Homo sapiens: one gene and its partner. The gene in region 2 interacts genetically with the main gene of each other region. Each region holds a gene or a part of one and is shown on either strand. Other genes may lie near its edges.

Evidence for each region.
Region 1: changes in VPS51 (region 2) and NRAS together harm fitness more than expected from each alone (negative genetic interaction), as found in Homo sapiens cells (one study listed by BioGRID).

Annotation. Positions count from the first base shown.
Region 1 is NC_000001.11:114,713,772-114,722,296, forward strand, and holds the start of NRAS (GTPase NRas), read right to left. Parts: upstream 3,001-8,525; 5' UTR 2,887-3,000; intron 2,407-2,886; 5' UTR 2,390-2,406; coding exon 2,279-2,389; intron 208-2,278; coding exon 29-207; intron 1-28. Other genes in the region: CSDE1 (cold shock domain-containing protein E1), read right to left, coding at 4,398-4,445, 4,842-4,974, 5,808-5,971, 6,768-6,946. UniProt on the Homo sapiens protein: Ras proteins bind GDP/GTP and possess intrinsic GTPase activity.
Region 2 is NC_000011.10:65,104,537-65,112,362, reverse strand, and holds the end of VPS51 (vacuolar protein sorting-associated protein 51 homolog), read right to left. Parts: intron 4,783-7,826; coding exon 4,636-4,782; intron 4,561-4,635; coding exon 4,341-4,560; exon of another isoform or gene 4,339-4,340; intron 4,167-4,338; coding exon 3,449-4,166; intron 3,084-3,448; coding exon 2,868-3,083; intron 2,659-2,867; coding exon 2,440-2,658; intron 1,882-2,439; coding exon 1,760-1,881; intron 1,670-1,759; coding exon 1,582-1,669; intron 1,037-1,581; coding exon 776-1,036; 3' UTR 501-775; downstream 1-500. Other genes in the region: delta(14)-sterol reductase TM7SF2, read right to left, coding at 296-347. UniProt on the Homo sapiens protein: Acts as a component of the GARP complex that is involved in retrograde transport from early and late endosomes to the trans-Golgi network (TGN).

The DNA of each region.
Region 1 (8,525 bases), on a different chromosome or scaffold from region 2:
CTTTCAGAGAAAATAATGCTCCTAGTACCTGTAGAGGTTAATATCCGCAAATGACTTGCTATTATTGATGGCAAATACACAGAGGAAGCCTTCGCCTGTCCTCATGTATTGGTCTCTCATGGCACTGTACTCTTCTTGTCCAGCTGTATCCAGTATGTCCAACAAACAGGTTTCACCATCTATAACCACTTGTTTTCTGTAAGAATCCTGGGGGTGTGGAGGGTAAGGGGGCAGGGAGGGAGGGAAGTTCAATTTTTATTAAAAACCACAGGGAATGCAATGCTATTGCCAAGGTTAAATAAGCATCTAACTATTCAAGCCCATTTCTGCCTATCTGGTTTGTCCCTCAAATTGCTAATATATAATCACAAACAAAAAGTATCCAATATCACCCTACATAAAAGAAAACCCACCAAATTCTATATGCCTGCAGAAAAGAAATATGGTCACTGTGTTCCTGGAAAAGATTAAGAAAACACAGTAACTCAAATGACAACTCTACTGCAGCCAGGAGGCTACAGATTAAGTACCCAGTGTATTTCACTAAGCTATGAACTGGACTGTTTTATTTGTGCTGTTTATTTTACTTAAAGAAATCTAAACATACCTCCACCAATTATAACCTGGCCCTATATACATCATTTGTGTTTATGACTAAATATACAAATACCTTTGTTTCAGAGAAGGTTTTTTTTTTATCATGACAGATGTACCTTTGGGAAATATTCCTGAATCAAATTCTTAAAGGTTCCAAACAAGGTATAGTTATGTTTAATTTCTCAGGAAGACAAACATGCATAGATCATATAAAAAATACTTTCATTTTGGTTTTATGGCAACAGGACTTTTACTTGTATTTTAATGTCATCACACTTGGAGAACTCTCTGGAGTACTGGAAGTGCTCTATACTGTTATCTGGGTGGTAGCTACATGACTATATAGAAACGCAAAAAGCACTGGGCTGTAGACATAAAATTTATGTATTTTACTTATGTAAATTGCTCAATAAATCAAACATTTAAAAATATTTAATTAAAATATTAAACATTTCATGTAAAATATTAAAGCTGTTAAGCTCAAAATAAAGATTTTGCCAAGGGTTAGCAACCAATTTTTTATAGTGGCTACATTAGAGTTAGTTTTCATCAATTAAACACGAGTAGCCAGATGGTAGGGAGGCCAGGTGTTGATTAAAATAATCTCTAAAGTTAGGCATTTCTAAACTGAACAAAATTACAAAACCCTTTATTTATTTATCTATTTATTTATTTTTTGAGACGAAGTCTCGCTCTGTTGCCCAGGCTGGAGGTCTGTGGTGTGATCTCGGCTCACTGCACCCTCTGCCTCTGGTTCAAGCGATTCTCCTGCCTCAGCCTCCTGAGTAGCTGGGATTACAGGTGCCTGCCACCACACCCAGCTAATTTTTGTATTTTTAGTAGAGACGGGGTTTCACCATGTTGATCAGGCTGGTCTTGAACTCCTGACCTTGTGATCCGCCTGCCTCAGCCTCCCAAAGTGCTGGGATTACAGGCGTGAGCCACCGTGTCCGGCAAAACCCTTTATTTAAAGAGCCTTAGGTGCCACTTACTGAAGACAATCTGTACCATGAACTCTCATAATAACAATAGAATCCCTAAGTACTATTACATAGTGCTTTACCATTCATAAATAACTTAAATATATTATTTAACTTTCCATAACATCCCTGTGTGGTAGGCAGGACAAGTTTATGGTAATTTAAAACATGAGGAAAATGAGGTTGGGAGAGATTCAGTTGCTCAATATCACACAACTAAATAAACTGCAAACAGGGACCAAAATCCTAGGCATAAAGACTAAAAATCTCAAGTTCTTGCTACTCCAATCATCTGGTCTCAGCTGCTTCAACTAGCTAATAAATAAATATTGAAGAACACTCATCTCTGAATCCTTTATCTCCATCCTATTATCTCCCATACAATCAGACAGTCTCGCTACTATGGCCTGTGTTTCTCATGTAATAGAGCTGTTATATATGAAGAAACTCATGAATGAACTCAACACTGAGTTTGCAATAGTTTACAGAACTGTTAAAAACTGGACAGGTTTTAGAAACTTCAGCAGCTAATAAAAATGAACTGTTCTCTATAAACACGTTAAGCTTATTGCATAACTGAATGTATACCCAAAATAACTTTTTACTTTCTCTCCTCTTATTCCTTTAATACAGAATATGGGTAAAGATGATCCGACAAGTGAGAGACAGGATCAGGTCAGCGGGCTACCACTGGGCCTCACCTCTATGGTGGGATCATATTCATCTACAAAGTGGTTCTGGATTAGCTGGATTGTCAGTGCGCTTTTCCCAACACCACCTGCTCCAACCACCACCAGTTTGTACTCAGTCATTTCACACCAGCAAGAACCTGTTGGAAACCAGTAATCAGGGTTAATTGGCGAGCCACATCTACAGTACTTTAAAGCTTTCTATAATCAATGGAAATGAAAACCCTAGTGTGACCTTCCATTTGGTTCTTAAAGTGACTAGAGAACGCAAAAACACCGGATTAATATCGGCCTCACACTTCTGGAGTAGTTTTCTAGCAACCCCCATCCTTAGCTATTTTTCAACAGTCCTTGGGCCCCGCCCTCAGCCTAAGCAATGGAAATCCCCCTTCCTATTACTCCCCGAAGGCTTCTCAGCTCTAGCAGGAAGCCTCCAGGCCGCAACTCCTTCCCATTCTCCCTTCTGTCTCCAAAGATCTCCCCACGTAGGCACCAAATGGAAGGACCCCCGCCCAAGGCCTTTGTCTCCAGCTGATAGATTCTGCTCCATTTCTGGCATCAGTGAAACGCCTGAACATTCCACAGCCCAAAGCCGAACACTATGCATGAGATAAACTTACCTCAAGCTCCACTGCCTCTGCTTTGGACAGATTTAGGACCACAGCCGGGAAAAATGTTGGAGACCCCGGAACCGCCATGAACAGCCCCCACCAAGGAGCGGCACTTCCGGCCCCGCCCGCTACGTAATCAGTCGGCGCCCCAGGCGCCTGAGTCCCCGCCCCGGCCACGTGGGCCTCCGAACCACGAGTCATGCGGCAGGCCGCACCCAGACCCGCCCCTCCCACACGGGACGTTTCAATAATGAAAGCGCTAGGTGCTAGTGTCTCAAAAATCAGTAAAACTTTATTCGCTTCCATTCTTTCGCCATTAACAGAAAACTGGAGAAAGCAAAAATGTTTCGTGTTTACAAAGATAAACGGCCTCTTTACCCAGAGATCAAAACCTCAAACGACAAGGGGGAAGATAAAACCGCCCTCCCCCACATCCCCTGAGCTGACCCTTGTCATCTTAGACAAAGCCTTCAGTCCACTGGCCAGGGACCCTGTATATGGCCAATTCAAGAAGAGGGCCAAGAAATCAGACCCATCCATTCCCGTGATATAAAGTTGAACAGAAGCTACACCAAGGGTCAAGTGTCTGTATTTTACAGGACACAGTAACCAGGCGGCTACTTATAAAAAAAAACAAGATTCATTTCAGGCACAACTTTTTTATTTTTTTTTGTTTTGTTTTTAAATCAGTAAAAGAAACCGGGTCCTAGAAGCTGCAGTGATCTAAGCAGCAGCAAGTTTGTGCATTCATTTTTTTTGTTTTTGTTTAAATATGTTTAAATTATCACACTGCTGGCACTCCTCATTTGCATGAAATTCTGCACCATACTTACTAATTGTAGTAAAGTTACCCCCCAACCCACGAAAAAAAACCTACTCTGGAAGAAAATTTTCACTGAAATATAACCAAACTTCTTTAAGTGGATTGTGACAAGATTATAAATGATATGAAAAATAACATTTTAAAATTTGGCCATCAACTTTAAGAAATGGTTTGCCTATACAAATTTTTGTAATTTTTAAAAGATAATATATTCTACCCTCATATGGTCCTCAGAATTAAAGCATAATGAACAGGAAGAAAAAGGAAAAGAATGCAACTGAGTGCTAAGGCAGAACATCTTGCCAGAAGTAATTAATGAAGGTAGAGTATATAATGAAAAGTGCAGAATTTCATAGGGCCAACAAGATAACAGTCTATATTTTTCACTTACACAGGCAAAGTGGATTCTGCAATTACCAGTTGCGTTAAATGCACCAAATAAAGCTCCTAAAATTGATACTATAAGGCGCCACCTTAAGTTTTTCCAGGCTGCAACTGTGCATTATTTAAAATGGTTTTCTTAAATTTATTTATTTTTTTAAACATAACACGAGGAAGGTGTTAAAACTGGTGTAATAGCTCAATAGAATAAGTATTCCAGATTTCGGGAGGGATGAAGAGGGAGATATTCAGAACCCTTCACCAGATTCCCCCCAACTTGATCATAGTGGATTAATGGTGTGCTTTGTGGATGTGGTTAGTCAATGACACCAGCTTGACGGATCTTTCTTTCTGCACCAAACCCCTGTGGGGGGGAGAAAAAAAAAACCCTGCAGTTAATGATTTGAGCGCACAACAATCATAGTACATTCACTATTCCGAAATGAAACTACAAAAGCATTATTTTTAATCATCTTATGCAGTACTAATTCTTTCCTAGAGGAGAAAATCCACAGTAAGCACTCCTGACCCATTCATTACCTAAACTGTCTTCAAAGCATCAAGAAAAGAAATGTGCTTCTTACTGTAAGCAACCATTAGGTTAGGGGGCTGAACCAATGTGTAGAAAGTCCTAACTAGTTATAAGCAATATGGAAGTCTCCCTGCTTCATTAAGTTTCCTGACCTATTGTTTAAATAGGACCACATATTTTATGTTGGTCTATCAGTTGGCCTCCCCCAAGCCTTGTATGCCCTCATACCATTGAGTTATCTGGTCCCCTTGGCTGACGAAGAACCATTAGGCGAGGAGCACTGGCATCATCCAGAGTGATATTCTTCAAGCGATTGACCAACCGATCAGGTCGAGGAGCTGCAACAGCCTTGGGGCCCTCACTGTAATTAAGTCAAAAGATGAGAAGAAACCACACTTGGTGGGCAGACAGCAAGCACTTGCAAAGGAGTGTGTTTTCCACCTAACTGCCCAAATGACTCACTTTTTATGATGGGACTCTTGCCTCATATACCTAGCTAGAAAGACAGGACAGACAAGTTTGTTTATGTATTATTATCCCCAACTCAAGGTCCCAACTTAATAGGAATGGAAGGAATCATTTGCAGACCCTAGACTTGAATGCAATCAAGAGTGACCAGTTCCACAGATGCATAAAAAAACAAGGTAGCAGATGTGGTAGCTAACACCTGTAATCCCAGCGCTTTGAGAGGACAGGGCAGGAGGAACACTTGAGCCCAGAAGTTCGAGATCAGCCTGGGCAAAACAGTGGGACCATGTCTCTACAAAAAATAAAATTGGCTGCATGTGGTGGCGCATGCTTGTAGTCCCAGCTACTGGGGAAGCTGACGTGGGAGAATTGCTTAGGCCCAGGGGGTTGAGTCTGCAGTGAGTCGTGATAGCGCCTGGGTAACCGAATCAGACTGTGAGACTGTCTCTGGGGAAGCAAAGCGGCATTATGAATCAGCATGGCTAAACTATTAGAATTTTAAGTAGCATATAACCTAGAAATGACTTAATGGAAGAAGAAGAATTTGGCAAAAATTTTAAAAAACATGTACTAAACAATCTTTTTGTATTCAACTAGAAGTAGGAAGTATCAAGAAATAATAAGTGGCAGAAGACAAGGCACAGAAAAGTGATGTGACAAAACAGAGACTATAAAGTTGAGACACTCCAGGGTAGTTACTAATCAAACCACAACAACAAAACTCACCAGACTCGCCAAACATTACAGGCGCTGCACTTGCCAGTGCGCTGATTAAGAATCACTGAGAACTCCACCTCATCTCCTGCCTGTAGCTCAATGCCATCCTGAACTTCTTTCACATGGAAAAAGAGCTTCTTGCTATCTCCTACTTCATAGTTAATGAAGCCAAACTGAAAAAAAAAAGTAGGTAAAAAAGAGAGGGCATGCCACACCTCACTCTGAATGAAGCACAATGCCTGCCCCTATCTAAAAGGATGTATAAAACATGGTATTAATGTTGATACTCCAGTCCAGCTGCCTGTGGCAAAACCTGTCAGGGAAGAAATGTATCTCTGAAAGTGCCATTCACTATATCACAAACTTGAACCAAACAAATAAAACTTGCCTTGTTCCTTCGTATATTATGAACTAAGCTTTTTGAATTAAGCAAACTCATCAGGAAGCTGTTACTTCAACATATATATTGTTTGGATCCCCTCTAGAATTAAGCTGGGTTATAGTAGCAGCCATACAAAATGTTATTATTCTCTGTACTGATGAAAAACATTCTGAGGACTCAGATTTCCCTGAGATCTCAGGAGTAAGACTAAGTTTGTTTGCCCTAAGCTTATTTTTTAAGTACTTTTGAACGTGGTTTCTGTGTTTGTGTGATATGCAAAAGAAGCTCTAAGCAAAAGTGTACAAAACCATATAGTCCTTCTATTCTGGAAATCTCACCCCTAACTTATTTTCCCCATTGCATAATATTAGTTACTAATACCAATCTTACTTTCTCATTGCTAATATAGTCACTTTTTGTGTAGTTTTCTGTTTTTATTAAGCTACCTCAAATGACTGAAAAAAGGTGAAGTAGAAATAAAAAAACGAATGAATGTTGATGATTTCCCCTTGGCTGAAAATATTTGAAGGTTTTGGTTACCAACTCATAGAAGGATCAAATTCAGATACAGAGATGCTGGCACTTACCTGATCTTTCACACATTCCACTGTGGCCCTGCGCAGGGGTGTGATGTTGTAAGCCATAGTTTGTGCATTTTGGCCCAGGACACACAATTGGAACTTGACGCTCTCCCCTTTCTGCAGGCAATCCCCTTTGTTGGCCATCCCAACGATGCCAAATGGATAGACCTCACCTTTCATATCGCCTGTAAAACAGGTACAAAGTCTAAAAGCTAGTATTTCACAACAGTCCTCTGCTGATGACCCTAGGAAGTTTATATAACTGCTAAAAATGTGTTATGTTACTTAAAATATATTTACATTTTCAGTACTCAGAAGTTTCACCTTAAAGCTTAAATGAAATCCTAAATGTTAAATACTACCATGGAACCAAATGAGAATGTCACAGCTCCCATCAGTACTTTATTAGCTGATGAACAATTTTAAACTGCATTTATAAATTAAAACAAAAAATACTGTCATTTACAATCCCATTGCCTAAATTTTAAGCACTATGGGTTGCCAATATTCACAGGACTATCTTCTTCCCAAGTTCACAATATGAGCCAACCAAAAATACTTTTGTCCCATACTCAATGAGCCAGTAAACAACTAGGCGGGCACAGGCAAAAACAATTTAGATAAATTTGACACCCCACCTCCTTTTTTTTTGTTCGAATTCTGGCTCCCTCACATAGGTTCCTTTTTCCAGATCAGAGACCAAAAACCATTTTCCTAAAGGGCCGGAGAGTATTATTTTAGGTTTGCAAGTCATCCTGTCTAACCAACTCTGCTGTTGTAGTGAGAAAGCAACGAAAAACAATATGTAAACAAATGGTTGTGGCTGTGATCACAAGAAAAGGCCACCATATATGCTGAGCCCTGCCCTACAGTATGAAGTTGCCTGGAGCCCGGTGCAGGCTACAGATAAAAACTATGCCAAAGAATTCAGCTGCCTAACAATTTTCAGCATCCAGGCAAATGTACTCAGTCAACAATAGTGGAAAACATGAGAAAAACAGGTGGGAAGCAGAAGCTTCTAACCATCCTCTTGATGATTACAGGGTAAGTGAAGAATTTTTGTCATTGTTATTGTTGAGACAGGGTCTCGCTCTGCTACCCAGGCTGGAGTGCAGTGGCGATCAACGGCTCACTGCAGCCTTGATTTCCTGGGCTCGGGTGATCCTCCCACCTCAGCTCCTGAGTCGCTGGGACTACAGGCACACACCATGACTGGCTAATTTTTGCATTTTTTGTAGAGACAGGGTTTTGCCATGTTGCCCAGGCTGGTCTCAAACTCCTGGGCTCAAGTGATCTGCCCACCTTGGCCTCCCGAAGTGTTGGGTTTACAGGTGTGAGCCACCACACCTGACTTTTTTTTTTTTTTTTGAGACGGAGTCATGCTCTGTTAACCAGGCTGGAGTTCAGTGGCATGATTCAGCTCACTGCAACTTCCGCCTCCCAGGTTCAAGTGATTCTCCTGCCTCAGCCTCTGAAGTAGCTGGGATTATAGGCACCCACCATGATACCTGGCTAATTTTTGTATTTTTAGGAGAGACAGGGTTTCGCCATGTTGGCCAGGCTGGTCTCGAACTCCTGACCTTCAGGTGATCTGCCTGCCTTGGCTTCCCAAAGTGCTGGGATTACAGGTGTGAGCCCCTACTCTCGACCCCAGCTGACTTTTAATTTTAAATACAGGAACCAAAAAACTTTGAGGAGATAATCCAAAGAGATCAAGTCATGGGAAGAGTGATTAGAGGAAGCTGGTCTGACCTCATGCAATAT
Region 2 (7,826 bases):
CGCTGCCTCCCAGTTCCCTTCCCAGGCGTCCATCTTAGTCCCCCGCCCCCAGGCCCCTCGAAGACCCTCCTCCTGCTCCCAGTCGACACCATAAATCCCCGTTCTGCAGCCCCCAGAACCGGCCCCTCCTCAGCTCTCCCTCTCCAGACACCCTTCGCTGCAAACCCCCGGGTCCCTCTGCCTCCGACACCCCCAAAGCCTTCCATCCTCAGATCTCGCCCCCGCTCTTAGTTCACCCGCTCCAGCTCTCCTTCGCTTAGCCTTTGCCCCAGGTCCCATCTCTCTGCCCCATTACCCAGGGGCCCTCCGAATTCCAGCGGGGCCCGGGGGCCCTGAGTGGGGGCCATGGTCTCCGCTCCGCCGGAGAGAGAGGGCGCTCACAATAGTCAGTCAAGGAAACACTGTCCGCCCCATTTCCCAGGAGATGGACTCGGCCGCGCGGAGGATCCGGCCCCGCGGCGCCTGCACCTGCCTGGACACGGAACGCAGACAAGGACCGCTCTCGTCCCAGGGTTTTTAAGTGGAACCGCCCCCTGCCCATGCTGGGCCCAGCACACCAGCCAATCGGCGCTCGGGGGCGGACCCGACGCGGGCGCCTCAGAAGCCTCAGCTTCAAAACCCCGCCCCCGGAAAGGCCCGCCCAGCAAGCGAGAGGAGGAGGCCACACATGTTTATTAGGCCGGTCCTGACACCTGCCTGCGGGGAAGGACCACCGAGACCAGATCCTGGGTGCCATGGGGTGCAGGGACAGACCGGTGCATGGCAGCGGCTGCGCCTAGCCGCGCTCGCAGATGACCTCAACCACACTGGGCTCCATGGGCACAGGGTCTGGGCAGCGCAGGGCAGCAGAGGCCACCACTTCGTCCAGCAGCAAGTGCACGAGTTCTTCGTCGGCCACAAAACGCCACAGGTAGAGCTGCAGAAAGTGGCAGTCCACTTGCACCTGCTGCAGCCCGAAGCGCCCAAAGGTGCGCAGCCGCACACACTCCAGCAGCGTCTTCAGGCTGATCTTGATGATGCCGGTCAGCACCGACACCTGCAGGCAGGGACACAGGGATGCAGCTTGGGGACTGCAGGTGTGTGTGGGGGACACCCAAGTTCCAAGCAGGGGCCCGGGAGACATACGATGGAAGTAGCTGGGATGAGGCAGAAAGTCTCCGGGGCCAGATAAGAAGGGAGGGATACAATATTAGCGCCGTCATCTGGAGGGCAGGGGACAGGTAGGGCCCAGCAATCAGAGGCATCCCTGAGCTTGGAGTGAGGCGGGGCAGGGACCATGGGTGAACAGAAAACCCTGGGGAGGACCCAAGACTACTGTGGGGATAAGGACAAGGGCAAACAGTAATCCCAGGTCAGCACCCAGACTCAGGCTGGGCATACACCAAGACTGGGACAAGGGCTGTGGGATTTGGAGGCAGGGCACTCTGTACTACCTAAAAACAGCCCTAGAGACAGAGACTGGAGGGTCAGGGTCACCCCCAGTTGGTCACAGAGTCCTGGGGCTCCTTGGGCAGGTGTGGGGCTGCTCCAGCCAACCCTCCCCGGGATCCCTGGAAGTCTGAGTCACGTTGGAAGTCGGACCTTGTTGAACTCCACAGGGCTGAACACATCAATACGTTCAGAGAATAGCTTCTGGATATTGCTCAAGAGGTTGGTGTCCATCGGGGCACTGGATTGGGGAAGACAAGGAATCAGAGCCCGCCCTGCACCCTCGCCCTCTTTTGTCCCTTCCCCCTGGGGCTCCCCTGACCAGCCAGACCTGGGGGTATAGCTGGGGGCGTAGCGGCCCTGCTGCCGAGAGCTGCTGTACACGGAGAAAGTCCTCTTGCTGGAGTCGCTGCTCTGGGCCTTGCGAACACCCTCTTCGTACAGGAGCCCCACCTGGTGGTAAAAAGAGGTACTGCAAGGAGGCCCGAGTCAGGGGAAACCACCAGCCCATCGGTGCTGAGGATGCCCTAAGTCAGCTACTCAAGCATCACAAGGATCACAGGGTAATCACCGCGGGGCCCGCTATTTAGTAGGTACATGGTCGCTATTTATAGAACCAGTGGAGTGGGGCAAAGGCAGGATACAAGAGTTGGTCTGAGGTCTAATCTTCAGCACCAGCACCAACCCTGCCCTGACTTCCTGGGTAACCCTGAGCCTCTGCTTCTCCACAGGTAAAATAGGGGCGAAGATGTCATAATCCTGGGCTGAGAAGGAACAAGACCGTGGACATAGGCACTCCCCAGCCCGTTTGGTCTTCATCCTTGGAGACTTGTTCCCCTGGGGTTCCCTCACGGACGCCCTGGCTACAGAACTGGCCCCGTGAGAAGCCCAGATACACATGTCCCCTCCTCCAGGCAGGGACTGCCAGTGATCCTCTGCTGCCCCAGCCCCTCTTGAAGGGACAGTACCCCCAGCCTGCGTCAGGGCTACCCCGGCCAGCCTGGGCAGCACCTGCACGTCGATGGCGGTGGTATCCTCCACCACCCGCTTCATGACGGCCCGCACATTCCGGGGCTCCAGAGTGCTGAGCCAGTCGCGAGTCTCCACGCTCTTGCGCAGCATCTGTGATATGACCAGGCCCTGCACCTTCACGTAGTGGGTCAGCAGCCGCCGCGCCGTTTCCCTGGCCTCTGCACACAGCGTGCTCACGGGCGTCACTGGGAACTGATCCTGAGCCAAGGAGGCAGAGGACAGAGGGAGTGGGTATGGTGGGGGCAGCTCAGGGGCCACTGCCAACCAGGAGCTGGGCACAGATTGGGCAAGGTGGAGGCTGGGGTACACACAGGCAGCTGGTCTGGGGTCTGGCCATGAGGGCACTGTCCAGCCATCTGCATTCCCAGCAACACCATTCCCTGCCCGGCTAGGAGCTAGTGCTTCACCTGCACCAGAAACTGTTCATCAGTGAGAGTGAGGATGTAGGAGATGGTGGCCGTCTCGTAGTCCAGGCAGAGGCGGGAGAGCAGCAGGAGCAGGGCAGGTGGTGTGGCACCCCCCTTCTCCCCAGGGCTGTCGCAGAAGCTCTGAGCCGTCTGGCACATAGAGTGGACGAAGCCCACGATGAGGCCCTCACGGACACCCTGACTGCAGAACTCACCCTGCAAGAGAAGGTGCCCAGGTCCACAGCAGGTCCCCTCTTCCAGGTAAGGCTGTTAATGACCCTCTGCTGGGGCTCTAAGTGCCCCAGCCCCCTCTGCAAGGGACAGCATCATCCTACATTCTAAGTACCCCGGAGCAGCTTCCCTGAGTGGGGGCAGAGAAAGCCAACACTGGGGACCCCACCATGCCCTGCTTCTCAGCCCAGCTGCAGATGCCCTGAGCCTTCCCCACCCCCCAGACCGTGCATAAGAACCTGAAACCACACCCAGAGTGCCTGGTTTCCCCAGTTTCCCAAGCACTGGCATAAAAGGTTTTGGAGGGTCAACCAGCAGGTTGAACAAGGAACACCCAAGAGGAGGCGTACCCGGAAGTAGGGCTTGTTGGAGAAGGACACCTCTTTGGCGGTGAAAAGGTGCACTGCTGCCAGAGAGGCCTTAATGTGGCTCAGGATGGAGCTGGCCACATTGGCCAGCAACTCGGCCAGGCCAGGGCCCTCCTTCCCAGCCACGCGAGGTGCTGCCAGCGCCTGGCGGACGTCTGTCAGGCAGCCCAGGAAGGCCGCCCGGAGACCCTGCAGGTGGTGGCCCAGGCGCTCGCGGGCCACTCGTTCCACGATCTCCGTGGCAGCGTCTGCGAGCCCGGCAGCGGCCAGCAGGGCCCCGGGAGCCCGCAAGCGCCGGTGGAAGCGGTCCAGCGCCCGCACCAGCAGTGAGTTGTCACCACCACCCTGCTCCTGCGCCAGCCGCCGCTCCACCAGCGCAAAATAGCGGCTGCCCAGCTGCCGGGCGAAGGCCGCCAGCTTCTCGGCACCTGCTGGGCCCTGGGCCGCAAACAGCTCCTGGTAGGCCGCCGCCACCTGGCAGAGGCCGCCCACGAAGCCACTGCCTCCATGGTCGGTGAACTCTAACACGTCGGGAGCCGGAGGTGAGGGCCCCAGCTCGGCCTCCAGGTTTCTCAGCTCCTTCTCCAGCCGGCCGCGGGCGTGCGCCAGGAACTCCTCGCACAGCTCCTCCGCAGGCTCGCCCAGGGCCAGCAGCAGCTCCACGCACTCTGCCTGCTCCGGGGCGCCTGAGCCGCCCTCCCTGCACGAGGGAGAGGTAGTGAAGGGCAGGGCCGGGGCTGCCGGTGGATGGGGCAGGAGCAGGAAAGCAAAGCACACACAGGGCAGGGGGACAGCTCCAGGAGGGCCCAGGAGCCGGGCACAGATGGGGCTCGGGGCTGGCGGGAGCGCTGGGGTCAGGGCAGAGGGGCCACACCTAAAGCGCTGCCGCAGCTGCTGGGCCAGGCGGGCCGTGATGACCTGGCAGTCGTCCTGGATGGCGCGGAACGAGGGCAGGTGTTGGTACTGCTGCAGCACGGCCTGCGCGCGGCCCTGGTAGCGCACCGCCTGCCCATAGGCGCCCAGTTCCACGCACTTGGTGAGGCGCGAGGGCAGCTCAAAGAGGAACTGCAGCTTCCGCAGCAGCGCGTGGACCCCTGGGGGACGGAGGGTGACGTTAGCCCCAGAGCCCCAGGAAAGGCCCACTGCAGGCCCTGCCCGGCAGCGCCCACCTGCCAGCTTGGTGATGCGCTCGTGGCGGTCCTGCAGCGTGGCGCTGATGCGAGCGCTGAAGTCGGTGATCACTGCCATGTTGGTGGCCAGCCGGTCCATCTCATCCTCCATCTTCCGGAAATCGTTCTTCATCTTCCGGATGGTGTCTAGGAGGGCAGGGGCGGGGAAAAGGGGAGAGCAGGTGACTGCAGGGCGGGCGCAACCTCAGCTCCTTCTCACCCACCCCTTCACAGACGCCCCAGCTTGCTCCAGGGGCGCATGGATGATTCCAGAGAAAGGACTGCGAGGGCGTGGGTCACAGCGCACATGGGGGCGGGGGAGGGGGTTTATGTTCCCAAAGCAGGCGTTACTCACATACTCCCCGTAACCCCCTAACCCTGGTGCCCAGGAGAGCCGGCCCTCAGAATTAGTCCAGATCCGAAGCAGGCCGCAGGTGCTTAGCCAGCTGCCACCACTGTGCCTCAACTGCTCCATCAGACCACAAGCAGCCAAGGCAGGGACCGCTGGCTCCCAAGCGCATCTGCGTGTCCAGCGCACTGCCTGGATGAGGCAATACATTCTTGTTGACCCTCATCTCCTTTCCAGACCTCCCAAAGCCTTTCACATGCTTTCCGGAACATGGGCTGTCTTCTCTGAAGGGCCCTTTCCCTTTGGTCCTGATAGAATCCTGCCTAGGGAGGCTGTTTTTCCTTTCACACACCAGGTGCCTGGGAGCCTGGTCCCTTCATGCTTCTAAATCATGCCTAGATCTCCTCTCTTCAAAACCCCGGCTTCTAGGAAGACCATGCCATCAAGCCACAACCCTCCTCTTTGCTGTCTCTACTGTCCTCTGACACTCCTCTCAGTTCCCCATCACTGCCTCTTCTCCTCCTCCTGTCACCTCCTTGTGCACATCCACATGGATGAGCCTTCCAATGTTCCTGACTGTTCACTGACGGCCTCAATTCAATTCCACCTATTCTTTTTTTTTTTTTTTGAGACTGAGTCTCGCTCTGTCGCCCAGACTGGAGTGCAGTGGCACGACCTCTGCTCACTGCAAACTCCAATTCCCAGGTTCACACCATTCTCCTGCCTCAGCCTCCCAAGTAGCTGGGACTACAGGTGCCTGCCACCACACCCAGCTAATTTTTTGTATTTTTAGTAGAGATGGAGTTTCACCATGTTAGCCAGGATGGTCTTGATCTCCTGACCTCATGATCCGCCCACCTTGGCCTCCCAAAGTGCTGGGATTACAGGCATGAGCCACCGCACCCGACGAGGTCTGATGGTTTTATAAGGGGCTCTCCCTGCTTCGCTTAACACTTCTCCTTCCTGCTGCCTTGTGAAGAAGATGCCTTGCTTCTCTTTCACCTTCTGCCATGATTGTAAGTTTCCTGAGGCCTCCCCAGCCATGCTGTGAACTGTGAGTCAATTAAACCTCTTTCCTTTATAAGTTACCTAGTCTCGGGCAGTTCTTTACAGCAGTATGAACCTGGATTAATATACCTAGTAATCAATCCATTACCAAGTCATGGAAGGTCTACCTGCAACATTTTCTTTGTAAGCCACTATCATCTCTTGTCCAACAACTGCCAACATTTCCCAACTAATTTCCCTAATTCCATTGAACATACCAACAATGTTCATAAAGAAAGGCGAAGAGGATAAGACAGAAATGTGTATCTGTAACAGGAGATATTTTGGTTTTGTTTTGTTTGAGAAAGAGTCTCACTCTGTCACCCAGGCTGGAGTGCAGTGGCGCGATCTCAGCTCTGGAGGCTCCTGGAGGGTGGCACGCCCGGGGAGGGCATGGAAACTCCATGCTCCTTCTCCTACACCTCGCCCTATGCACCTGCTCATCTGTACCCTTTGTAACATCCTTTGTAATAAACTGGTAAATGTGTTATCCTGAGCTCTGTGAGCCACTCCAGCAAACTGAGCCCAAAGAGGGAGTTATGGAAACCCCTACCTGGAGCCAGTTGGTCAGAAATTCTGGAGGCCTGAGGCCCTGACCTGCAGCTAGTGCCTGAAAGTGGGGAGGCAGATTTGGGACTGAACTAGTGCCTGAAGGGAGGCAGGCTTGGGGACTCAGCCCTCAACTCATGGAATCTGATGCTATCTCTGGGTAAATAGTGTTGGAATTAAATCAGAGGACACCCAGCGGGTGTCTGCTGCTTGGTGTGTGGGGAAGAAACCCAACACATTTGGTCACAGAACTCTTCTGTGGTCATGATTGTGGTGATGTGAGAGCATAGGAAGCACACAGTTTGCATTTTTCCCAAACAATGCCATAAAATATATACAAACCTTTCCATATGGTAGATCACAAAGAAAAAAACCTCATTCTTTTTTTTTTTTTGAGACAGGGTCTCCCTCCGTCGCCCAGGCTGCAGTGCAGTGGCGCGATCTCAGCTCACTGCAACCTCCACCTCCTGGGTTCAAGCGATTCTCCTGCCTCAGCCCCGAGTAGCTGGGATTACAGGCACGTGCCACCATGCCTGGCTAATTTTTGTACTTTTAGTAGAGAGGGTTTCACCATGTTGGCCAGACTGGTCTCTGACCTCAAGTGATCCACCCGCCTCGGCCTCCCAAAGTGCTGGGATTACAGGCGGGAGCCACCGTGCCCAGTCGAAAAAACCTCATTGTTAACCAATTATGAGGTCAGAAAAGGAAATCAAAACTGAAATTGCAGCATGGGTAAAATACCAAGAAAACACTAAATTGGTAAGGGCTTGGTGAATTCTATGGATGAAATGGATAATTTGCTACAAAAATAGGATTTACCAAAATGGATTGCAAAAAACAAGAAAACAGAAACAGAAAAACTAGAGAATGTTGTGAAAGAAAGGTCCTACTCCCCTTTCCCCTCCACACAAAGGCATCTGGCCCAGATGTCCAGGGGTGTTGCGGCGGCTTGAAGGACAGCGCCTTCCAATTCTCTGTGTAAACACTGCCCCAGCAGAGAAACGAGAACAGCTCTCACACAAACTTGATGGAACAAACATAACACTGTTATGAAAACATAACAGAAATACCTCACATATACACATTCATATCTCTTATGAATGGAGATGCAAGGATGAATTAAATAAACAAATGGAGATGCACAAATAAGCAAACAAAATCCAGCAGCATATTAAAATAATAATTGATAAACACAAAAGGGTTTTTGTTTCATGAATGCCAGGATGACTCAAAATTAGAGGATCTC